3 separate regions of the Homo sapiens genome follow, and regions 2 and 3 are each linked to region 1. Evidence: fine-mapped expression QTL. A gene starts in region 1. Each other region holds a variant in brackets. All regions are shown on one strand. Distances are between the middles of the regions.

Region 1 (8,176 bases):
CTCAGGGCACACGGGGCGGGGAAAGCAGCTTTGGCTTCGGAAGACTCGTGGCTTCCATGCTGCTTGCTGTGAGTGAGCCCCTGGGCCCCAACCTCTCGTCCCTAATAGGGAGATCTTGGTGGTACCTGACCCCCTGCCCCATAGGTCGTCCTGAGGGTTATGTAGTGACCACGTGGTGGCAGCGGGGGTGAATTCCTTGTGAAGCTAAGTACAGACCCTTCCAAGGCCTGGGAGAGCCAGAGCTCTGGGTTCATGTGGCCTTGTGTTTGGAAATACTTTCCAAAAGCAAGATATTTTAGCTGTAACTGGCTAAGCTGGCTGCCAGGGTTTCCAAGACAGGGTTCCACAGACTGAAGAGCTTTAACAACAGAAACTTATTTTTCACAGTTCAGGAGGCTTCAAGTCTGAGACCAAGGTGTTGGTTTCCTCCAAGTCCCCTCTCCTTGGCTTGCAGATGGCCATCTTCTCACTGTGTCTCCACAGGGGCTTCCTTCTGTGTCTTAATCTCTTCTTATAAGGACACCAGGCATATTGCATTAGGTCCCACCCTAAAGACCTCATTTAAGCTCAGTGACCTCTTTAAAGGTCCTATCACCAAATACAGTCACATTCTGAGCTCCTGGGGGTTAGGGCTTCAGCACTCAAGTTCTGGAGGACACAATCCAACCCATAATACCCTCTGTCTCTTTCCCTATGCCGCCCTCATCATGCTTCCTCCCACTTCGGAGCTGCTGCGGAGGCCAAGGGCATTTTGGGGATGTAGCTGAAGGGGGATTGAGTTGGGGATGCCTTGGTTTGGGTTTAGTGGGGTGTGTTTATGTAGGTCTGAGCCAGTCTGTGTGGGTCGAGTTGTTGCTCCCTGAACAGGCTAATGGCTCCCAGGAGTGCCCTCCTTGCCATGGCACTGGCAATGTGTGCTATGGTGCCTGGCACCAGGAGTCTATGGGCAGAGGAAGAGACATAAGGGTTGAAAATGTCATTCTTCCAATAGGAGAGGTCTGGATTTGCAGACCCTCAGAGTCACAAGGCAACTGGGGGTGTCGCATAGCCCAGGACTGCTCAGCAGGAGTCACCTGGGGCATTTAGTAAAATGCTGATTCCTAGACCCTGCTACTCTGAGGCTTCAATTCAGTGGGATGTGGAGGAGCCTGGGCATCTGCATTTCTCCTATGCCTCTCCAGGTGATGGGCGCCAGCACTGAGGTTTAGGAGGTGTTAGTCGAGTCATGTTCTGGTTTGCAATTGTTCAGTTGCTTTTCATCATGAAAATTAATAAAATCCCAGTAAGAAGCCTGGAAGAAATAGAATTCTTCCAAGTGTTAGCATTCATTTATGAAAGAATGATAGACCTTTCTCCAAATTTGAAAACAATCTCAAAAAACTACCTGAGATTACCAATAATGAGTTATGAGGCTGACAAAGTTTTCCAACCAACATTAAAATTTGTTCCCATCATTATAGGAGTACTCTGAATTATCTATTTTCTCCACAGGAAAAATATTATAAAATCATTGGCTTCCAAAGAGGTAATCAAAAATGACGAAGAAGCAAAAAATGTAAAAAAAAGAAGATATTATAAAGGTGGATATCAGGTATCCAATTAATACAATTTTATATTAGTTTTATAATGTTTTCGCAACGTTTTTGATATTTGTCAACTTAAAATATTTTAAAATTTGTTGTGATTTGTTATTATTCTAAATAAGTTTTCATTTTTGTACCAAGTCTTGTACTGGGGTTTTTAAATTCTTCTTCCTAAGGGGGACTGTAGCGGCTCCAGGTTTTACAAAACCTGGATCTACTAACCAATAGTTGCCTGTTCAAAAGTCATTCTTCTTCTTTTCCTCACTAATGGAACCCTGACTTTGTTTCAGGCAGCAATGTACCTTCAATTAAAAAAAAACATCCTTGGCCGGGCGTGGTGGCTCACACCTGTAATTCCAGCATTTTGGGAGGCCAAGGTGGGTGGATCACCTGAGGTCTGCAGTTTGAGACCAGCTTGGCCAACATGGCAAAACTCCATCTCTACTAAAAATACAAAAATTAGCTGGGTGTGGTGGTGTGGGCCTGTAATCCCAGCTACTTGAGAGGCTGAGGCAGGAGAATCACTTGAACCCGGGAGGCGGAGGTTGCAATGAGCCAAGATCACGCCATTGCACTCCAAACTGGACAACAGAGCAAGACACCATCTTAAAAAATAATAACAATACTCCCAGCCTCCTCTGAAGCCAGGGCTGGCCATGAGACACCGTCCCAGCCAATGAGATAAAACAGAGCTCTCTGGGGAGAGTTTTCAGGAAAGCGGTGAAGTGGAGCTGACCTAGTGTGGGTATGCCTTTTGTTCTTCCCCTTCTTGACTGGAATAGTGATGAGATGTCTGGGAAGAGGCAGCCAACTTGCCACGTAGAAGACATTTTGAAAAAGAAAATTACATCCTGAGGGTGAAGGAGTGAGAGAGGATAAAGTGAGGAACAGCTTGCCTTTGCATTTCTTGTTAAGAGAGAATAAAAATCTGTTTAAGCCGCTGTCTAGTTGTGATCCCGATTACTCACAGCCAGACATAACCCTTAATCTACACACATGTATCGAAGTACCACCAGCTGGGCTTTTTAAACAACAGAAATGCACTGTCTCACTTCTGTAAGCTAGAAGTCTGAAATCAGGTGTCAGCTGGTCCACGCTCCCTATGAAGCCCTGGGGAAGGATCTGTCCCAGGCCGCTCTCATGGCTTCCGGGGGTTTGCTCCCATCTTTGGCATTTCCTTGGCTAGCTGATGCCTCGACCTGATCTCTACCTTCATGTTCACACGGCATGCTCCCGTTGCTTGTGTCTCTGTATCCAATTTCCCCCTTTTATAAGGATAGAAGGCAGACTGGATTAGGAATCCAACCTACTCCATTGTGACCTCATCTTAGCTAATTACATCTACAACGACCCTATTTCCAAGTAAGGTCATATTCTGAGGTCCTGGGAGTGAGCACTTCAACATACGAGTTTTTTTTTTTGAGGGGGTGGGTGGGGGGAACACAATTCATCCCAGGATACCTGGGCATTGTCCCTGATTGTCCCTCCCTCCCTCCTGTCCACGTCCAAGCCGTGAGCATGTCCTGCCAATTCTGCACCCAGATTGCTCTGATGCGCTGATACTTCACTGTATCAGCGTGGAGGAGGCCCCCACACTGCCTCCTTGTCCCCACTCTTGACTACTTCAGCCCATGCCCCAAGGGCAGCCAGGGCATCTGCTAAAGATAGTCTCACATCTGCTCACAGATATCCTAGTTCCTCCTGACCCCCTGAACCTTAGAGGTCTGCACTTCCTCCTCTTCTGAAGTTAGGCATGGCCATGTGACCTGCTCTGGCCAATGAAACGTGAGCAGAAGTGACGAGAGTCCCTTCGGGGAGGAAGCCTTCAAAGCCAGCATAATTGTCACCTTTCATTCACATTGCTGCACCATGTGGGTGCTCGGCTGGCAGACAGCCCCAGCAGCTTGGGCTCCCAACCACTCTGATGAACAGAGCCCCATTGACCGAGGCAGGATGTATGATGTGGGCAAGACACACCAGGGAGATTTGGGTTTGGTTGTTACTGTGGCTAACATAGCTTATCCTGACTGATGCACTTTAAAAAATATCAATCTGACAATGGTCCATGGGACCACCTTCCAGGTGAGACAGTCTCCAAACTCTCGCCAGCCTGCAAGACCTTGCAAGTGCTGCCCCTCTGTGCCCCCGCCCCCCATCTTCCACACACTCCCTCTCACCATTCTGTGGCCCAGATACTTTTATCAGATTCTCAAATATGTCCCGTTCACAGCAGTCAGGGTGTTCCCCCATGCTGCTCCCTTTGGTGGGTGCTCTTCCCTGCCTTCTCCTTGCTAGAAAGTAAGCTCTGGTGGGCAGCCGCTTCCTCTCTGCTGTTCACTGTGGTGTCCCCACATCTTAGTGACTACCTGGCACACAGCAAGTGCTCAATAAATATTTGTCTAATGACACTGAATGAATGTTTGCCCAGCTGAGTCCTGCCCCTCCCAAGTCTCAGCTCGACAGCACATCTTTCATTTGGCTATGACCTGCTGATGTGGCTTTGCTGGGGGCAGCCTGGGCTGGTGGGGGGAGGCTCCCTAGGCTGGCATCCGCCCAGCTCTGCCGCTTGCTGGCTCTGCCGCCGTTAGCGTGCGCTTTAACCTCTGACCTTCAGACCTCTCATGCGTACAGAGGGGGACATGGATCTCCGGGGTCGCTGCGTCTTCCTGACCACTGACGGCCAGGACGGCCCCAGCCCCGCTTTACCTGCAAGCCCCACTCCAGGCTCGAGCCCCCGAGGGCAGGGATAGCTTCCCGGGTCCCGAGGCTTGACCAGAGCCTGAAAGCTCCTGCCGGGGGTTGCTCCGACTCAGCGAGGCGCCAGGCTGCCCGGCGCGGCTGGGGGCGCTCAGCGCCGGGACCCCAGCCCTGCCCCGGCCGCCCGCTGGCCCAGTGCGCACGCTCCGGCAGCTCAGCTCCCCCTCCCACGGCGGCAGGAGAGCTCCCGGCATCTGCCCGGGGCGGGGGCGGGGGCGGGGCGGGGCGGGCGCCGCGCCCTCCTGCCTGACTGGCAGGAAGACAGACCAATCGGAGGGGCTCCCCGGGGGGAGGGGCGGTGCCGTGCCTGAGCCGGGCGCGGGCGACCGAGGGAGCTGCAGCCACCCGCGTGCGGCACGCGCCGGCCGCCTGCCCGGATCGCGGCCACCAGTGCCGCGGCCTCTCGACTCCCGCCCCGCCGAGCCGCGCGCGCGACTGCCATCCTCCTCAATTGCTTTTTACGATTTTTTTTGTGCATGCATTCATTTTCTGTTCCGTTTTGTCCTTTTTAAGGCGGTGGCGGCGGCGACAGCGGCGTAAGCTCGCAGCGGGGAGGGGGCGGCCGGAGGATGCGGCGCGGGGCTGCGCTCGCTACGTCCGCTGCTGCTGCCCGGCTCGGGCCTGAGCGCCGAGCAGGTGGGTACAGGTGCGCCGGGGGGCGGGAGGCGAGCGCTGGCCAGAGGGAACCCGTGGACCCGGCGACCGAGGGGCGGACCTGGCGGCAAGGGACGCGGCGACCGGTGCCGCCCCGCCCCATCGTCCATCTCCCCCTCCTCCGGCCATCGCGCCCCCTCTGGGTCCCCCTTCCACTCTCGCATCCCACCTCAGTGGTCCCCCACCCTTCCATACCCATCCCCCACTCCTCTTCAGACCCCCTTGCAAAATCTCCCAGCCGCTGCGTCGCTTCCCCCAACACCCCCTCCCGGTCCCGCCCCCAGCCCCCAGCTCTCCTTCACGCCACCCCTATTTCCACTCTTCTCCGGATTCCGCCCTCAAGCCAAGGAGCGGGAGGGGGACCCACCCGGTGCCTGCCGGAGTGGCGCGGGGGGTGTGGCCGGCCCGTCCCCTCCGTGTCTTCCGCAGGGTAGGTCACAGTCCCCCAGATCTCCGCCCAGGTGGCAAAGAAGATGGAGCTGGGGGCCGCGCCCCGGCGGCGCGGGGCCCGAAGGCGAGGCCGCCCAGCCCGCACCCCACCCCACGCACGGCACACGCCGCCGCGGCCCCTGCCACGCACACCCTCGCGCTGCTCCGCCCACGTGGGCGCCGGGGAGGAGGCTCGAGAGATGGGAAGAAAGGCTGGCACCCACCCTCCTGCCGGGCCGGCGCGCCCTGGGCGCACTGGCCTCCGGAGATGGCGCGCAAGGATTGACTCTCGTGGTGCCAGACACCTTGCCGGGCGCCCTGCGTCGGGGCCAGCGGCCTCGCTGGCCTGCGTCAGTGCGCTGCGGCCTCGCCTCCCAGCCCCTCGGTCCTTCGCTCCATCCCCCCTGCTGTGGGCTCCTGAGCATCCGGCCTGGGCAGCCCAGATAGAGGCCGCTTACGAGGCTGGCGCTTCTTTTCGCCTTAGAAGCATCCCGCTCCCACACACCCCAGCTCGCCGGTCTCCTGAAGGCTGGGCCAGCCTCGGCTCTCCGCCAGCCTCTGCCCGGCTCTCTGAGCTCCAGCGATACTGTATCTAACCGCCAGCCCTCCTCCGCCGCCCGCCCCATCTGCGCACACTCGCAGGCACACTGTCCTTGGCCTTTGCCAGTGCTGTGCTCTCTCCGCGAACGCCCTAACTTCAGCTGGCCAGCTCCTTGTAGTCAGGGAGATCCCCTTGCCCCTCCTGAGCTTTCCTGGAACGTGGCGCTGTCCCAGGATGCTGTTACCATCTGATGGCCTCTGCCTTCCAGAGCAGAGGAGGAGGTGGGGAGGAGGGCAGGGGCAGCCTCAGCCCCTCTCCCAGGGCTCCACCCACAGTGAATGTTGGGCATAGCAGGGCCATCCCCCCTAAGTCAGAGTAACCCGCTGGTGTGGAGGGCGAGGCCATGGGAGGAGCTGGCCCTTCCTGTAGCACCCTGGGCTGGTGGGTGGTGGCTCCACTAGCTGGGATGGGCAAGGAGGAGGGACACATTCGGGGATAGAGTGGGGGAATTAGAATCCTTTCCTAGCAGGGCATTTCCACCCTCCTGGAGACCTGCAGCTCTGCAGAGACTGATGTTGTAGCGCACAGTGGAGGCTTGTGGCTTGTTGCAAGATTTTTGTTGCTGTTGAGGTGTGTACCGGTCTGTAATGCTGAACATCTCTGCTCTGGAGTCTGGGGTAATTCTTATCTGTAGTCTTTTTGCAGTAAGCAGCTCCCAAAGGCTCACAGTGTGGACCCAATGCATGAGATGACTGGCATTTTCCTCCTTCACAAACCACCCATGACTCCCACCGCCCCCACGACCTCACCAGTTCCTCACATCCTGGCTTCCCCAGCCCATCTCTCCCCTCTCCCTGCCACAATGTCTCAGCCACGCCTGCTGCCTCTGTGTTGCGTAGACATGTCTTCACACTTGGGTTTTTCCCCCACATGCTTCTTTTTCCCCCCGTCTAAAACAATGCTCCCCTCCCTTGAGTATGTGGAGAACGATTCATGATTAAGCCCAGCTCTCAGGTTCCATCAGTGTGATTTTCCCAGACTCTGCCGGAAAGATTGTGTGCTTCTCTCATTTGTGTTCTCAGAACTTTTTATACACATACAGTGTGATATTTGTTTGTGTAGTTTTTCCTTAAGCAGATCTTGCCCACTAGAGACTGGGGACACGGGACACAGTGAGGTGGCCTGAGAGATGGTCCCACTTTGGTGGGGGCTCTGTTTTCCTGGGGAGGTGACCACACAGACACTGCCCGTGCTGTCAGAGAGTCATGTGCAGGGAGAGATGGGGACAGGCGGCCCGGCCAGGAAGGCTGCACGAGGAAGTGGCAGGACCGTGGCCCCACTCTCTTGGTGTGTAAGGGTGGATTGGGCTGTGGGACAAGTGGCAGAGGGAACAATTTCTAATGCTTAAGCCAGCAGCAATTGCCACTGCAGGCTATGGCTATCTGTTTAACTCCTCGAGGGTGGGACCTTGTGTCTCTTCAGGCTCTGAGCCAGACTGCCAGGGTTCCCATTCAGGCCCTGCCTCACTTAGCTGTGACTGGGCAAGTGCCTCCCTGCTGGGCTTTCTAACTAAATGGGGGCTTCCCTTGGGGAGTCTGAGGATGACTGCAGTGTGTCCCAGTTCTGCTGGGTCACTCCTCTCCCCATAGTGGCGACGGGATCAACCTGCAGGGCTTCTGAAGTTGGACTTGCCTGTAGTTTATCCCTTGTCATTGTGTGATCTTGGGTAAGAAGATTAACCTCTCTGAGCCTCCATTTCCTGTATAAAAGGGGGCAGTGGCATCTCTTTGGCTAGGTTGGTGTGGGGATCAGAGGTGTGGTCTCTGAGCAAAGGTAGCCGATTTATGAGGGGTGATGATGGTGAAGAAGCTATGAGAATATTTATTCATTTAGCCTTGTCACAGAGCAAACTCCCACGCCCACATTTGGGGTCCTTCTTTAGCTAACGATGAAACTAATGATCAGAGCAGTGGCCACCATTGTGGTGGGCTGAGAGGTATGAGGGACCAGGCTAGGTCAGTGGAACTGTGTTGAGGACCAGCTCCCACCCTACTGACAGTGTGACGTTGGGCAAGTCGCTTAGCCCCTGTACTCACTTCTTTTGTCTGGATAAGGGGAATGAGGGCCACGTAAGGAAATATCAGCACTTAACCTCCCGCTTCTGCCTCGGGTTATCTCATCTTTGCTGCACGGGCACCACACAGGGTGAGGT
Region 2 (8,144 bases), 47 kb after region 1:
GGGAGAATGAAGTGATCCATAGAAAGAAAGCTGTTGCATCAGGAGTTAGTGCTGCTGATGCAAAGCAAGACACCCTTGGTTCTAACAGAGCCCAAGGAAAGGAAATAGACAACAATCTGTTAGCTGTGTTGGCATCTAATTTAAGTTTTTTCATCAGAATTCTCGACTCTACGGTCCCTCACTCACACCCTACTGGGTGTGCTGCTTCATGGCTGGTGTTTACGGAGAGGCATATCTAACCTGCTCAGTGAATGTGAAACCACAGACAACTGGCACCAGTTTAAACAGGAGAAAGCAGGGGTTAGGTAGCATGTCCAGGGCTACGCTGGGGAAGATGGCTGAGCTGGGATTCTGGTGGGATTGTAGCTCGGAGATCCCGGTTCTGAGTTGTGATGGTCTGTGCCAGTGGCTTATGAAAAAGTTAGGAAAATGATGGATTCTTAGTCAAAAAAGGTGTTACGGAAAGTGTACGCTGAAGTTTGATTTGAAAATTTGAAGATTCTTATATCTATAATTTGTAGCTTCCTAAATATCACAAATTACCTGAATTACCATAGAAATTGCTGCTTTTCAGAGAGCTTTCAATTTAATCTCATTTGGTTCTTGGGACAACCCTGTGTTGTGCGCCAGCTTCCCATCCCGTGCGCCTTTTTGCAGAGGGAGTAACCTGCCCAGGTGCACTCGTCTTAGTCCATTTTGTGTTGCTATAACACAATATCACCACCTGGGTAGTTTATAAAGAAAATAAATGCGTTTCTTACAGTTCTGGAGGCTGGGAAGTCCATGGTGGAGGGACCTGCATCTGGCAAGGGCCTTCTTGCCACATCTCATGGCAGAAGGCAGCAGGGCAAGAGAGTTCCAGAGAGAGAGCTGAGAAGGGGGCTGAACTCAGCTTTTTATCAGGAATCCACTCCGGCAATAATGGCATTAATCCATTCATGAGGTTAGAGCCCTCATGACCCAATCACCCCTTAAAGGTCCCCCCTCTTTACACTGGTGCATTGGGGATTAACAGTGAACTTTGAGGGACGCATTCAAACCACTAGCCATGGAACTTGTTATAGAAAATTCAGGGCTGTGGCTGTTGGCCAATGGGGTGTGGGTCTACTGAACAATTGTAACGTGACCAACACCTATCATGGGCAGACCATGTCCATGTGCCAGGTGTGGCCATGAGATTCCCAAGACCAGACATCTGGGGACAGTGGAGCTGGGATGTAACCAAGGTCTAGCCCAGAACTGACCTTTCTTGTACATCCTACAGCCTTCAATGAAGGAGATATTTTAGCTCCCACATCTCAGCGGATGCTGTCAGACATTTCCTGGGTGAAGACAGATGAAAGCCTTCCACATGCATCAGATCTTTGAGTTGCATCTCAGTAGCTAAGCCCTGGGTCACCAGGATGACTGGGGGCTGAAGCCGAACGCTCAGAACAGATGGCTCTGGATTTATTTCTGCAAATTATAAGAAAGGAAATGCACAACAATCTGTTAGCTGTGTTGGCAGCTAATTTAAACTTTTAAATCAGAATTCTGGACTCTGTTAGGTACCGTATTTTATTAAATCTAAGCTGCTGTCAATTGGGACATGCATCATTATTTTTGTACCACTAAAGAAATGGGAAAAAGTGCTATTCATTAAATGATGATGGGGCATTGAATGTGAGATGAATCTTGATTTCAGAAACGTTAACTTAGGATCAGTGTGATACAGTGGCATTCGCTTGTTCCTGTGTTGGCGGGCCACTTCCGAGGGCTGGCTTTGCGCGTGGCTGGCTGGCTCTGTGCCGGGCGTGGTACGGTGAGAAGATGTTCCCGGTCTCTGCTCCCAAGAAACACACAGATGGGTCAGGTATTTAGAAATGCCAACAGATTATTTCAGAATAGTTTGTTGATGGATGGGTTTTCTGGATCACCAAATATTTCTTGAAGATCCATTATTGTGCTGGGCACTGTTCTACGCACTGAGGAACCCACCACGGACAGAAGTCACAGAGCTGACCCTTTCCGTGGCAGTAGATATTCATCCCCAGCAGCGGTTCTCACACATTACCGCACAGAAAAATGTATGTGCAAACTTAAGATTGCCAGGCCCCACCTCTAGAGAGTGCCATTCATGAGGTCTAGGGCAGGACCCAGGAAGGCTGCATGTTAGCAAGCACACTTGGGAATCAGGATACACAGGCCTTCAGAGCAAAATTTGAGATGATAGAGCTTCAGCTTAAAGGACACTATAATATCCCGTTCTATAAATGTGCCATGGGACATACAGTTGTTGGTGAATATTTAGCAAATATTTAGTTGGCTGCTTATTTTCCTTGTTGTAAACAGCACATCCGTGCATGTCCCTGCAGCTGAATATGCGCGTAAATCCTCCGTGAGTTCTTTAGGGGAAATCAGGTAGCAGCGCTGGGCGTTTAGAAGTTTTCAGAGCCAGTTAGGAGTTTGCTGTCATTTTTCCAACCACCATAACCCACCCTGGAACCAAACTGTCTGGATTTGAGTCCCGCTTAGTAGCTGTGCACTTTTGGACAAGTGTTTTAGCCTTTCCATACTTTTTAAATCTCTAGAATACCTATGTTTTAGGGTTCTCTTGAGGGTTAAATATAAAGTGCTTGGAGCAGAGCTGACGCAGGATAAGGGCTGGGTAAACATTCGCGGTGGTGGTGGTTGAGTGGTGGTTGCTGGTATTAAAAGGCGTTGAGCGCAGAGGAGGGAATGTTGTTTCCTCCTTAGGAGGAGCATTCGTCCTCCTCGTGGGCACACCAGGGTCACTGCGGAGGGAAGCTCCAGCCAGGCATTCATGTGTAGGCCTTTTGATAGCGGAGAGTCAACTGCATTGTCACAGATCCAATTTCAGCACACCCCAACACTGTCACCAGAAGTATCTTCCCAGCAGGCTGGGCTGGCATCTCCCGACTGTCTTCCCACTGCTCGGGAATGAGCTTTAAATTCCTTTATCCACAGGACAAGGAAGGAAGCCTCTGAGGCTCAGGCTCCACCCCAGCTAAGACCCCCCACCCTACCCCGCACCTTTCCCTGCGTGCTCTGTGTTGGTTTGTGGAGTGAGAGGGTCTCAGGGGGCTTCCTGTGGGAGGCGATGGATGAATAGGCCTTCGAGGAATGAATAGGAGCTTCCCAAGTGGAGGAGGAAGGAAGGACTGTCCACTGGATACAAAGGCAGAACAGGATGTTTAGGGTGCTGTCTGTAGTTCATGATGGCTGGGGGTGGGGAGTTAGGAGTGGGCTGGGTAGTAAGTAAACTGAAAGAGGGGTTCAGCGGGCCGGATTGAAAAGAATTCCATTTGCCAGGGCTGCAGAGTTGGGCACAGTCCCTGCGTGCAGTGGGCTGTGCGTGTTGGGCTCTTGGAAGCCTTGCTAAGTTTCTTGGTGTCTGCCTTTTCGGTATTGCCTTTTTCAAGGCTGAAATGCATCCTCTTCCTTTTATATCCCCCCTGCTTTTTTTTTTTTTTAAAGGACTATAGACATCTGACAAATTCCTTGTCCAATCACTCAGGGAACTAAAGGCTTCTGTTCGGTTTTTAGCTTGTTGTGAAATGGGGACTTGGAAGGGGACCACTCTCTTCACGCTCTTTGTGGTAAATCCTTTCTGGGCATGCAGATTTAACATCCTAGGGGGTTTTCCTTGCAATGGTTTTGATGTGAAAATGACCGAATTATTAAAGTAGTTCAATGGCCTAAAATAGGAGCAACTCTCCCCAGTGCAGCCTCTCTGCACGTCCAGTGATTTGCTTGTTTCTTCAGCCTCCGCCTGTGTCCAGCTCCGCTCTGTCTTCCCTCCTGCGAGGGTCAGTGTCTCCCTGAGTGCAGGGTTTATCAGCTCTGCAGGACACAAGCCTGTGCCTTCTCACCATAGGCAGCAGGATGCAGTCAGCCAGGCATGGTCTGGGGGCTGCAGAGATGGCCTTGAACTCTCACTCTGGTTCAGCAGCCAGTATTTAGTAAACATCTGCCGCATACAAGACCTGGGCAGACTCTGTGACAAGTAAGAGGCAGGATCCAGACTTTCCCAGCCAAAAGGGGCCTCAGGGAGCGGGTAGCTGGTTCCGCATTTCTCAGTGAGAGTGCTCACCAGTGTTGCGATGTGAGATTTTAGGTGACAGTAGCCAAACATAATTTATTTTAATAATACTTTAGTGTGCATTAGGGAAAATATAACTGTATCTTATAGTTATAAAATATAGCACCTGAAGCCTATGATTTGGGGGATATTTTTGCTTAGAATAAGGCTGAAGTAGTGTACAGGTTTTTCAAAAGTCAGTAGTGTTAAAGAAAAGTACTAAGCACATAAAGGTAAGGTGCCGAGGGGCACACGGGAACATGATGGCCTTCCACAAAACGTTCTCTCTCCAGATTGTCAGGGCTGTCTGAGGTGCACCCTCTTACAGCGCAAATTACACCTCCGGAAAGCTAATTTTAAGAAAAGAAGAACCATGCATTTTATGCAGAAGTCACAGCGGCGGCAACTGATGACTGAGGTTTGGGAAACACCGTTGGCTCCAGTGCTCATTTTTCAAAACATGAAATTGAAGCCTAGAGAGGGCCAGGGTCACAAGGCTGTGGAGAGAAGAAGGGGCTTCAAATCCCAGGGCTCCTGATGCTCAGCGTGGCTCCTCTTCTCACCCAGATCTGCCTGTGACCAAGGCCTGTGTGAAGGAGGCCAGGCTCGGGGAAGACCCCTGGAGCTGAGGCTGAGAGGCAGGGACGTTGGGGCCTCTGAGTAGGAATCAGGGTGCTGTCGAATGGTGAGCAGGTGTTGGCCTCTGGTGAGCTGGATGCCAGGAGAGTCTGGT[A/G]GAGCTTGATTTTGAAGCCTTGGCTGGCAAGTGTGAATCTGCCTGTGTAGTCTTCAGGCAGGTAGGGGAGGGGGATGTGCATGGGTGGGGCTGGTCACAGAAAAACAGACTGAGCTCAGGTTAACAGGAAGGTGATGTGGGTTTCCTAGAATTGGGGCTAAGGGATGCCCACTTCTTTTTGTTTTTTTGAGACGGAGTCTCACTCTTGTTGCCCAGGGTGAAGTGCAATGGCGTGATCTTGGCTCACTGCAACCTCCGCCTCCTGGGTTCAAGTGATTCTCCTGCCTCAGCCTCCTGAGTACCTGGCACTATAGGAGCCCACCACCATGCCCAGCTATATATATATATGTATATATATATATATATATATTTGTATTTTTAGTAGAGACAGAGTTTCGCCATGTTGGCCAGGCTGGTCTCGAACTCCTGACCTCAGGTGATCCAACCACCTCAGCCTCCCAAAGTGCTGGGATTACAGGCATGAGGCACCACACTCGGCCAGGATGCCCACTTCTGTGAGAATATTGCAAAGATCTGCTGCAAGAGTGAAGTGTTGAGTATTGGGATCAAAGAACTAGTGTTTAAATATAGGGGTTAAAGGGTCACATAAATATTCCCCGGCATCAGGATCAGAGGTCGGGTTTTCTCTTAGAGACTGCCTGCCTTTTATTCGTGCGGACACAAACTCTTCCAATGCCAGGCCTTATCTCTGATCATAGGATGCAGAGCAGCAGGCAGCTCCCCAGCCAGTTGGTGGTGGGGCTGGGTGAGGGCGGTTCTAGGAGCTGGGGCTACAGGCTTAGGTAATGCAGCCTCCACCAAAGAGGAAGAAAGGAAGGCTTGGATGAGTGAGTGAGGACTCTTGATCAGAGTCCCAGTGGGAGGTCATGGCCTCAAGTGGAAGAAATTTCACCTTTTTACTCCCATTTAGAGCAGCGTTTGCTGGTTAGATAGTTTTATTCCGAGTTGATTTGACTTCCTCCCTCCCTGCTCTCTCTCACTCTCTCTCTGTCTCCTCTTTTCCCACCCTCCCTCTCTTCCTTCCTCTCTCCCTTCTTCCTTCCCCTGTCTCTTTCTTCTTCCCTCCCTTCCTTCCTCCTTCGCCTGCTTCCTTTCTCCTTTCCAACCCTGAGACCTTTATTAAGTGGTAACAGTGTATCAGGCATAGTGGCGAGCCCCGTAGTGGTTACCAAGTAAAAGTCATCATAACAACAGCAGCTAATGTTCAGGGAAGGTCAATGTCATGTACCTGGCACTGTGCTCACTGCTTTTACTTATATTGTCTTGTTTAATTCTCATAACAACACTATGAGTTTGGTATGGTTATTGGATAATCTCATTTTACAGGTAAAGAAACAGATCTAGACAAGTGGAAGGACTCACTGGCCTAAGGTCTCACTCCATACCCTTAGCCACTTTGCCGTCCAGCTTCAATGGCTATTGAGATCCACCTTCAACTCTAAGTTTCAAAGAACTTGAACAGCAGACAGGAGAACAGGTGGTTCCAGCCAGGAGGACTGGAGGACTCTGAGCTTAAATGCGGCTGTGAAGGTCACAGTGCTGTGAGTGCAACTAGGTGGGGCATGGGAAGCTCTAGGAAGACTTAGGGGAGGTGACATTGAGGCTAGAGTTGGCCAGGTCTGGGGTGGTGAGAATGGTGGGTAAGCAAGCAGAGGGCCTTCTGGGCAGAGAGAACAGCTTGGGCAGAGGCATGGAGGCACCTCAGAGAGGGCGCTGAGCATTTGGGGATTTGGAGGCAGTATTTTGTGGTGCAGTGAGGAAGAACATGGGAGTCTGATCTCATCTTTCATCTTGGCCCTGCTATTGCTGGGCTTGAGATCTTGAGAAAGTTGCAGACACTTCTTAAGCCTTAGTTTTTCCGTAGGGAAAGTGGGAATAATTACAGAAGTAACTTCATAGGGTTGTGGAGAGGATTAAATGAGGTCCTGTATGGAACATAGACATGGTGGCCATTGTTTTCATTTTTGGCATGTAGGGTGCTATGGCCGTGTCACAGTTGGGAGGGCAGCAGGAGACAAGCTCAGGAGCTTGAATGCCAGACCAGAGTACTTGGGCCACAGCCTGGAGACAGTGGGAGACTGGGGAAGGTATGGCGGGGGCGCTGCACAAGGTCACATAGAAGCCAAAGCTTGGGGAGAAAGAGCTGCCATCCCCAGCAGCCTTCACCAGGTGTTTTGCTTTTGGTGGATGACAGGGACCCACTGGTGGGGTTGTAAATGTGTGTCACCTGGGCACACTCAACGCTGACTGCTTCAGGTGTTGCACTGGGTGTCTTCCGGTGGCAGACATTATTACTGTCTTGCTCAAGTGGAGGAGCTTGAAGCTGGGATGCGGAAATTTCTTGCCTGTTTTCTTCTTCCCGCCATGGTCTAGGAAGCTGATTTTAGAGGCCTGCCTTTTAACGTGCTTTTAAAAGATTTTTCTTCCTACCTGTAGCATCAGGGCAGTTTTCTGGGGCCCAGATGGAGTCTGTTGGGTTTTGAAGAGGAAGCCAGACAGACGCTGATGCAGGTGCTGCCGGCCCCGTGGTCTGTTCATGAAGGTCAGGAGTCCGTTGAGCGCCGTGGGAGCTGCCTCCGAGGCAGGGATTAAGAAGCGGGTGTCTATTCCTGGATGCGGAAACCACTCAGTTCAGCAAACAGGGCTGTGTACCTGCTGTGTCAGGCCCCGGACAGGGCCCTGGGGACGTAGAGGTGGATGAACCGTGGACACTGTCCTTGAGAAGCCCGCTGCACAGTAAGGCTTTTAGTTAGAAGCTGACACCGGGGGCCAACCTCAGCCCCTGGTCTCCGCAGTCTGCTTGCTTTCTCTGAGGTGTTTCTCCTTCTCTGTACTGGGAGGTTGGGTGGGAGGGAAGCTGGCACCTCCTTCAAAGAATTATGAAGATTACTGAGCTAATATACATAAGCCCAAAGCATGGGGCCTGTGCCAGCACTTTCTTCTCTCTCTCTCTCTCTCTGATGGAGGAGAATGTTCTGTGCTGTGGGGAAGTAGCCGAAGGGGGCACTACCTGTATCATTCACTTTCTTCCCCAGAGCTTGGCATATGGCAGGCGCTCCACAAACTTGTAGGCGTGTTTCTTGGAAGAATGAGTGTGTAATTGACCTTGGAGGATGTGAGATTTAGGCAAGGGGAGATTTGGAATTGGCGGGTGACGTTCCTGGTAAGCAGGGGCAGTGGAAGGTGCAGAGCAGAGGCAGGAGGAGAAGCCCAGCTGGAGGGTGGGCCATGGGTGGGGAGAGCTGGGAGTTGGAAGGGAGAGGTCACTGGGGCAGCCTTCTAGGATCTTGACCATCAGCCTGATGCAGT
Region 3 (8,176 bases), 94 kb after region 1:
TGACTTGGGTGGGCTTGAGGGTAGAGCAAGCCCAGGGTTCTGTGAGCCCAGAGAGGAGCTGCCAGCCAGGCTGAGCACAGAAAGAGCATGGAGATGCAGGCTTGCTCCTGGGTGGCTCGAGCAGTTGAAGGTCTATCTGAAGCCCCGAAGGTGCCCTCTGGCTCCTGCTGTAGTACCTGGAGTGACGGGTGGAGGCTGCTTGGGGAATTGCAGCAGGCGTCCCTGTCTTGTTGAGCTGGGACTCAGGTCGCCAATGGAGTGCTGGGCCAGATCCAGCTTCCAGGTGGGGACGGGGCTGGGGCCTGGGATCTGGCTGCAACCCCAGCTCAGGATGGCCACACAGAGCAGAGGCTGAGTTCTGGACCAGGGGACTGGGCTTCTGGAACTTGGGGACAGATGCACCTGTCTCCATCCCTAGGTGTTCAAGATTCCAGGCCGAGTGCATCCAGCCTCTTTTAGACATGGATGCTGGTGATGCTGACCTGTTCACCCTTTAGCCAGGTCAACAGGCCAGGTCACCTCCGGGGCTGGGGCTGGGGCTGACTGGCTGGGGGTGTAAGGGCTGGCAGCTTGTATCTGGACATAGCTACAGCAGCTGTGGTGACAGGGAAAGCTGCTCACTCATATCACACTGCCTGGGCTCAAATCCCCTCTCCACCACCACCCCTGCCTGAGGTCTTATAAGCTGTGTAACCCCCTGCCTCAGTTTTCCCATCTGTAGATGGGGACCTCTAAGGTGTCTGCCTCCTGGGTTGTTTGAGGAATGAATGAGACAGTCACACACAGGGCCTGGGTGCTGCCTGTCATACGCTCACATGACCATCAGGGTGACCTTTACATGCCTACTGTGCAGATAGCACCAGGTGCTTTAGAGGGTGTCATGACCCTGGCAGTGACCTGAGAGATCAGGTGTGGCTTCCCCCGTGTTACAGGTGAGCAAGCCAAGGGCTGGAGAGGGCGGGGACTTGCCCAGGTGTGTTAGCTTGCCAGGGCTGCAGTAACCAAGTCCCACAGATAGGGCGGCTTACGCAACAGACGATTGCTGTCTCACAGTCCTGGAGGCTGGCAGCCACAGATCCAGGTGTCAGGATTGGCTCCTTCTGAAGCCTCTCTCCTTGGCTTGCAGACGGCCGCCTTCTCCCTGTGTCTTCACATGGCTTTCTCCTCTGTGTTTGTCCATGTCTGTATTTTCTGTTCTTACAAAGACACCAGGCAAATCGGATTAGGGCCCACCCTAATGACCTCATTAGGATCTATCTCCAAATGGAATCACATCCTGAGGTCATGGGGGTTAGGACTTCAACATATGATTTTCAGGGGGACACAGTTTAGCCCCACACACGAGGCCAGCACAGTAGGTGGTATTGCAGGATTGAAAGCCAGGCCCATGCGGACCCCAGGCTGGGCCTCCCTGTTACCAGGCTGCCTCCCTGCCTCTGGGACGTGTGGCAATTTCCACTTGGATGCACGCTGGCTGATTATTTTCTCAATCCAGCCATCCATGTGGCCGCTTCAGGTTGACTTTACCCATCTGGCTGCTGGGAGAATTTCAATTCTCTGAGAATTCAGTAATGTGCTTATTGACTGGTACAAAAAACATAAATGCAAACTTTACAATTGCATTGAAGTGTTACTTTGATATGATCTCACAATCACTGTCAATGTCCCATTTAAAGTGCTGGCATTTTAGCAAAGCATCCCTGTTGAACACTGTAGGATGAAGGAGGGTGGTAAACGTGTCTGTCTATTCATCTGCAAACCCCTGGCATGCATGCTCCATGCCTGGGCTGAGTGAGAAGTGTTTGGAAGTAACTCAGAGACAGACCCTGTCCTCAAGTCGCATGGGTACAGAGCCTCACAGGAAACCAGCAATACAGCAGCCCTGGGCACATTCCATCAGAGGTTTTAGAAAATAGTGCAGGGACAAGCAGAACCCAAGGCTTCACAGGGGCAGTTTTGTGGGGGTTTTGTGGAGCATTTCCTTACTTTCTGGCATTATAAGATGCCCCAGGCTCCGCAGTGGCTCATGCCTGTAATCTCAGCACTTTGGGAGGCCAAGGCGGGCGGATAATGAGGTCAGGAGATCGAGACCATCCTGGCTAACACAGTGAAACTCTGTCTCTACTAAAAATATAAAAAAATTAGCCGGGCGCAGTGGCGGGTGCCTGTAGTCCCAGCTACTCTGGAAGCTGAGGCAGGAGAATGGCGTGAACCTGGAAGGCAGAGCCTGCAGTGAGCCAAGATCGTGCCACTGCACTCCAGCCTGGGGGACAGAGCGAGACTCCGACTCAAAAAAAAAAAAAAAAAAAAAAAAAAGGTGCCCCAGGCACATCTTGTATATTTCCTACCCCAGCGCTAGACCCAGCAGTTTCTCTAAGGGGTCCTGGTTCCTTTTATTGGAGAATGGCATTAGAAACAAAGATCCAGGCACCAGGCGTGCCCATCACTGCTGCGGTGTCATTGTTTCTAGGCCCTCTCAGCTGCCAGAACAAGGAATATATATGTGTATACTGACCTGCGTATGTACGCATACCTGTAAATATTTCCATATATGACATCTATATCCATACAAAGTCAAACATGAGTTCTTACAGATGTCCCAAGACGCATCCACTGCCGCATGGCTCCCTTCAGCCTCCTCTTGCTTGTCTGTAACCTCTTACTCCAAGTGGGAAACCTGGCTTCCCCCTCTGCCATCCACTTTCTTTGTTCAACACTATACATGTATGATGGTTTCAGAGTAGTGAACTGGTACCCATGAGATTTAGAGGGCTTTGAGCATGGAGGGTGTGGCGGGGAGGGCTGCTGCAGGTGGCTTGGGCAAGGGGGAAGTGGGGAAGTGGCCAGGCCTGGACATGGAGAGCCAGTGCTGCTGGATTGGATGAGGATGAGGATGGAAAGGGGTGAATCTGACTCACTCTCTGAGTGGGAGTGGCAAGTGAGGGTGGTGCTGGTGGTTCAGATAATTTCTCCACGCCAGCCCCCACACCCCCAGGGCATGCTCCCTCTCTTGGCCTTTGTGCCGTGGCTGCATTTAGAGTCCAAGTGCTGAGGAGCGGCTGGTGTAGGTGCCTCTACACTTGGGGTAGCTTGGAGGCACCTGGAGGTAAAGTGCTGGGCGGCTTTTTTTGGCCTGCTCAGCTGGATGGAGTGGTGGTGGGAGGGAGTGCTCTGTGCCCATCAGAGGTCACCCCAGCCTCACTCTGCTGCTTCTGTGGCATAGGTCATGTCACCTGGGCTTGGCTCTCAGCAGCTTTGGGCAGAGCTGGAGGGACCCAGCAGGGCCCTGTCCCCAGGCCCCTGCCTCTCTGTCACCATCCCTGCCCTACACACCTGGATCACCAGCCTCAGCAGCACCTCTGCCCCTCCCAGGAAGCAGCCCCTAGACGCCCCGGGCTGCCCTGCACAGGCCTCTGCCCACCCTTCCATGTTCCTCACCCCCTTTCTACCTGTGTCTCTCACACGAGGCTGCCCACCCCTGATGCAGAAAGTCAGAACCACGATAACAACAGACTTCCATTCACCCACCCACAGTCACCTCATCTTCCTCCTCTCAACGGGCCTTTGAGGGGCAGCTGTTGCCATCCCTGTTTCCTAGTAGAGGAAACTGGAGCTCTGGAAGGTTGTGTAGTCAGGGTTCTTCAAAGAAACAGAACCAATAGGTTGTGACACACACACACACACCCCCCACAGAGTGAGAGGTTATTCGTTAGTTTTAAGGAATCGGCTTATGCGGTTGTGGGGCTGGCAAATCTGAAATGTGTAGGGCAGACCAGCAGGCTGGAGATTCAGGCAAGGGTTGATCTTGCAGCTTCGAGTCCCAGTGCAGCCGGGAGGCAGAGTTCCTTCTTCCGCAGGGGACCTCGGTCTTCTCTTAAAGCCTTCGACTGATTGGATGAGGCCCACCTACATTGTGGAAGGCACCGTGCTTCACCCAGAGTCTACTGATGTAAATGTTAATCTCTTATAAAATGTACCTTCACAGCCACATCTGGACTGGTGTTTGACCAAACGACTGGGCATTGTGGCCCAGCCAAGTCGACCCACAACATCAGCCACCATAGAGGCAGAGAAATTTGCCTGGGGAAACGCAGCTCATCAAAGCAGATTAGGATCTCATTGGATCTGACCCTGCTGGCCCCAGATGGCTGTCGGCATTAACCAGGGACTTGACTGTTGCCTCGCAGGAGGGAGAACAG[T/A]CAAAACCATTTTGTCCATAACTGGGACAATTCTGTTAAATACTTAAAGTTCTGGCTTCCTGCTGCTAAATCCACTAGGAAAAGATGCTGATTGCTGCCCCCAGGGTAAGGTGGACAGAACATGGACTGGTCGCCTGGCTTCATTCCTATGATTGTGAGTATCTGGTGAAAGGAGATGTTGATCTTGTGTGTTTGCCTGGGTTGGTTTTATTTGCTTTTTTACCTGCTGTTTTAAGTAAGGATTTATCAATACTCAGGTGCCATTGTAAAACTTCTCACCTAAAATTAATTTTAACATGTGACTATGCTATCAACAGTGTGGTCTGGGGAAAAACATTGCCATTTTCCCTGGAAGCAGCTTGTCCACCAGAGGCAATTCATTTCAGGTCTTCAGAGACGGGCAGAATTCAGGAAATAAGGGCTTGTCAGGCGTTCCTGTGGAATGTGTGTTGAGTGATATTTGAAACAAAAAGGTTAAAGAAAGCATTTTGAAGTGTTTTAAGAACACACTCCCTTGGGACGTTTTATAAGTAATGTTTTGAATTGTTTGCTGATAAAATGAATAGGCTCAAGGCGGGGTGGGTTGCCTGGTAGCACAGGGTCCTCATCCCTCACCCTGGGCAGCTCACCAGACTGTCTCTGATCTTTGGCTGCCTCATGATAAAACAGAGGAGAGAGAGAGGAAGAGAGAGAGAGAGAGAGGAGAGAGGGAGAAAGAGAGGGAGCACGCTACTTCCTTCCCAAGACCGTGAGGGGTTCATGTGGCAATGTGGGTGATGCATTGGAGCCCCCAGCCCAGCTAGGGACCCCACTCAACAAGAATGGTGCCCCCTGCTCACTGCCCCCCAGGACTTAGAAGCCTGGTCTGTCTTTTCCAACTCCACAGTCCGCGCATGGGGCCCTGGAAATATATTTCTGGTTTACAATCTTTTGGGTCTTGGTGATGATTTCTGCAGGGTGTGTTTTGTGATTGAGCAGTCGTCTCAATTTACAACCTGGAAGAGATGTCAAAGGCTTGAATGCCTCTCCAGCATCCTCAGGGGGTTTCCACCCCCAGGGAAAGTCTCAGGGAACTAGCAGGAGAGATTCTAAGTGGGGCTGGCAGGAGGGTCAGGCCTGCAGGGCACTGCCGAAGGGGGAATCCATGGGAACGTGGGCCCAGGTGGGTGTCTTGGGCGTGGGGAGGCTGTGGCCAGCTCCCCCAGCTGTGACCCTGACCCTGACCCTGACCCTGACCCTGACCCTGACCGGCTCTCTCGCCGCTCTGGCTGCAGGTGGGCAAACTGCGCGAGCGGCTGCAGGAGGCGAAGCTGGAGCGCGAGCAGGAGCAGCGACGGCACACGGCCTACATTTCGGAGCTCAAGGCCAAGCTGCATGAGGAGAAGACCAAGGAGCTGCAGGCGCTGCGCGAGGGGCTCATCCGGCAGCACGAGCAGGAGGCGGCGCGCACCGCCAAGATCAAGGAGGGCGAGCTGCAGCGGCTGCAGGCCACGCTGAACGTGCTGCGCGACGGCGCGGCCGACAAGGTCAAGACGGCGCTGCTGACCGAGGCGCGCGAGGAGGCGCGCAGGGCCTTCGATGGAGAGCGCCTGCGGCTGCAGCAGGAGATCCTGGAGCTCAAGGCAGCGCGCAAGCAGGCAGAGGAGGCGCTCAGTAACTGCATGCAGGCTGACAAGACCAAGGCAGCCGACCTGCGTGCCGCCTACCAGGCGCACCAAGACGAGGTGCACCGCATCAAGCGCGAGTGCGAGCGCGACATCCGCAGGCTGGTACGTGCCGCCCCCTCCCCCGCCCGCGGGCACGCGGCCTTCCCTCCCTGCACGCATGGGGGAAATGCGGAGCTCCGAGGACCTGCTGTGCTCCAGGCATTGTTCAAAGCACTGGGGCCCCAGCAACCTCCCTCCCGTCTTAGGTGTGGTAAGGAGGCTTTGGGGCTGCAGGTAATCCGCTCAAAGAACAGTTCCCCATTTGTCAAAGGAGCTTAATGGAGACTAGCGAGGGTTGTTGCAAATGCCTCGTGATAGCGTATCTAAGTGTCGGGCATTTATTGATTCATTTACTTCAACAACCATGAGCAGACTTCCATCTCCAGGTAAGATGCCACAGGTCAGGGCAGGCCGGCCAACTGGCTGCAACAGCAAGGGAAACATATAAATTGCAAATAGTCCTGTTTTGAAAGATACTGGAGATCTGTGGAAGCTGTGGAGTGTGGATGAACTAAAATTCCAAAGGGAAGGGGAAAGAGCCCTGCCTGGGCGGCCTAATTGCCAGCTGCTTTCTTCCCTTGGGGCATTTGTGGATTCTGGGTGCGGGCTGAGGATTGGATGTCCTCAGAGAGATGAGTAGGACTTTTCTGCCATCTCAGAGTGGGCATGAAACAATGGAAACCAGAGGAGCCCCACCTAGGCCAGCTTGCTGCACAGGAGATCCTCCTGAGTCCTGGAGTGAAGGGGGAGGCTGGCGAGCCCAGCTGGAAAGGCAGAATGACAGCTCCCATGCCCTCACTGGACGTAGGAGACAAAGGGAGGGGGCCCGCCACAAACACATGACCAGTCTGCCCCTCAGGGCGTTTGTCACACTTTGAAGCTGTGTGGGGCAGGAGGCTAAGAAGTAAAGTAAGCTGAGATTTTCAGACTGGATCAAAGAGTAACAGTGATATTTACAAGAGAGACATCTTAATTATGAGGACATGGTGACATGGAGCATAAGAGGATGGGGAAAGATACACTGTGCAAGCACTTCCTAAAAGCAAAGCTGGTCTGGCTGTATTAATGTCAAAGGCTCTAAGGCAAGAAGTAATACTAAAGACACAAAAGGACAGTTCTTAATAATAAAGGGTCAATTCAGTGGGAATGCATTCAATAACAAAACCTCAAAATGTATAAAAGAAAAAAATTATCAACACTAAAAGGAGAAGCAGACAAATCCACAGTTACGGTTGGGGACGAACACGCTTCTCTCAGCAAACAGTAGAACACACAGACAAAGAATGAATAAAGACATGATTTCACCAACACAATTAACCAACGTGAACTTACCTGACAGAGCACTCTATTCCACAACTGCAGAATACTGTGGACATGACATACTTTTATCATTGTAGACCGCATTTCAAAATTTGTGGGTTGTAATTAGTCCTTAGAGCAAAACATATTTTAGACAAAAAGAAGAAATGCTGAAAATCAAGCATCTAAACTTCTATCTCAAGAAGAAAGAAAAAGAACAGCAAATTAAACTCCAGAGAGTAGAAGGAAGGAAATTTTAAAGAGCAAGAAGCAGTGAAATAAAATCAATAAAGAAAATCAACAAATTCAAGAGTTAATTAAAACTGATAAATTGACAAACATTTAGCAATATTGATAAAGCAAAACAGAGACAATAAATTACTAATATCAAAAATGTAAAGGGGGAAATACCACAGCTCCTACAGTCAATAAAACCACAGCAAACAGCATATACCAATAAACTTGAAACCTCGATAAAATGAACATATTCCTTGAATAAGCACAATGTACCAAAACTGACATGAAACAAATAGAAAATCTAAGTAGTCCTAAAGCTCCTAAATAAATTAAATCTGTAATGAATAATTTTCCTATGAAGAAAGGCCCAGGCCTAGATGGCTTCACAAGTAAATTCTTTCAAGTGTTTAAGAAAGAAGTAAAACTAATTCTAGCCAAAGTCTTCCAGAAAATAGAGAATTAGGAACACATTTTAACTAACTTATGAAGCCAGTGTAACTCTGATTCCAAAAGCAATAACATTACAGGATAAGAAAACTTTTGGATTACCTTTTATGAACATAGATACAAGAGTACGAGCAAGATATTAACATATCAAATCCAGCAATACATAGGAAGGCTAATAAGTCATAACCCAGCTGGGTTTATTCTGAAAATATAAAGATTGGCTTCATATTCTAAAATCACTGAATATAATTCAACATAATAATATGATAAAAAAGAAAAACGTGGTCA

The links.
Region 2: its variant is fine-mapped to the expression of JAKMIP1 in whole blood (TOPMed, PIP above 0.99).
Region 3: its variant is fine-mapped to the expression of JAKMIP1 in whole blood (TOPMed, PIP above 0.99).

The regions. Positions count from the first base shown.
Region 1 is chr4:6,197,053-6,205,228 of GRCh38, reverse strand. It overlaps JAKMIP1 (janus kinase and microtubule interacting protein 1), which reads left to right and starts at 4,680. Exons shown (of 21, transcript NM_001099433.2): 1 at 4,680-4,976. JAKMIP1-DT (JAKMIP1 divergent transcript) reads right to left here and starts at 4,496. Exons shown (of 4, transcript NR_037863.1): 1 at 4,290-4,496. RefSeq lists enhancers at 3,113-3,162, 6,115-6,204, 6,415-6,524, 6,545-6,594, 6,715-6,874 and silencers at 4,265-5,024, 5,295-5,644.
Region 2 is chr4:6,149,830-6,157,973 of GRCh38, reverse strand. The region is part of intron 1 of JAKMIP1 (janus kinase and microtubule interacting protein 1); the gene reads left to right. Among named protein-coding and RNA genes, the nearest start is that of JAKMIP1, 47 kb to the left of the region's middle. RefSeq lists an enhancer at 4,566-4,735. The variant A/G (reference allele first, on the strand shown) is at 4,815.
Region 3 is chr4:6,103,265-6,111,440 of GRCh38, reverse strand. JAKMIP1 (janus kinase and microtubule interacting protein 1) reads left to right here. Exons shown (of 21, transcript NM_001099433.2): 3 at 5,474-5,968. Among named protein-coding and RNA genes, the nearest start is that of C4orf50, 89 kb to the right of the region's middle. RefSeq lists an enhancer at 5,221-5,753. The variant T/A (reference allele first, on the strand shown) is at 4,200.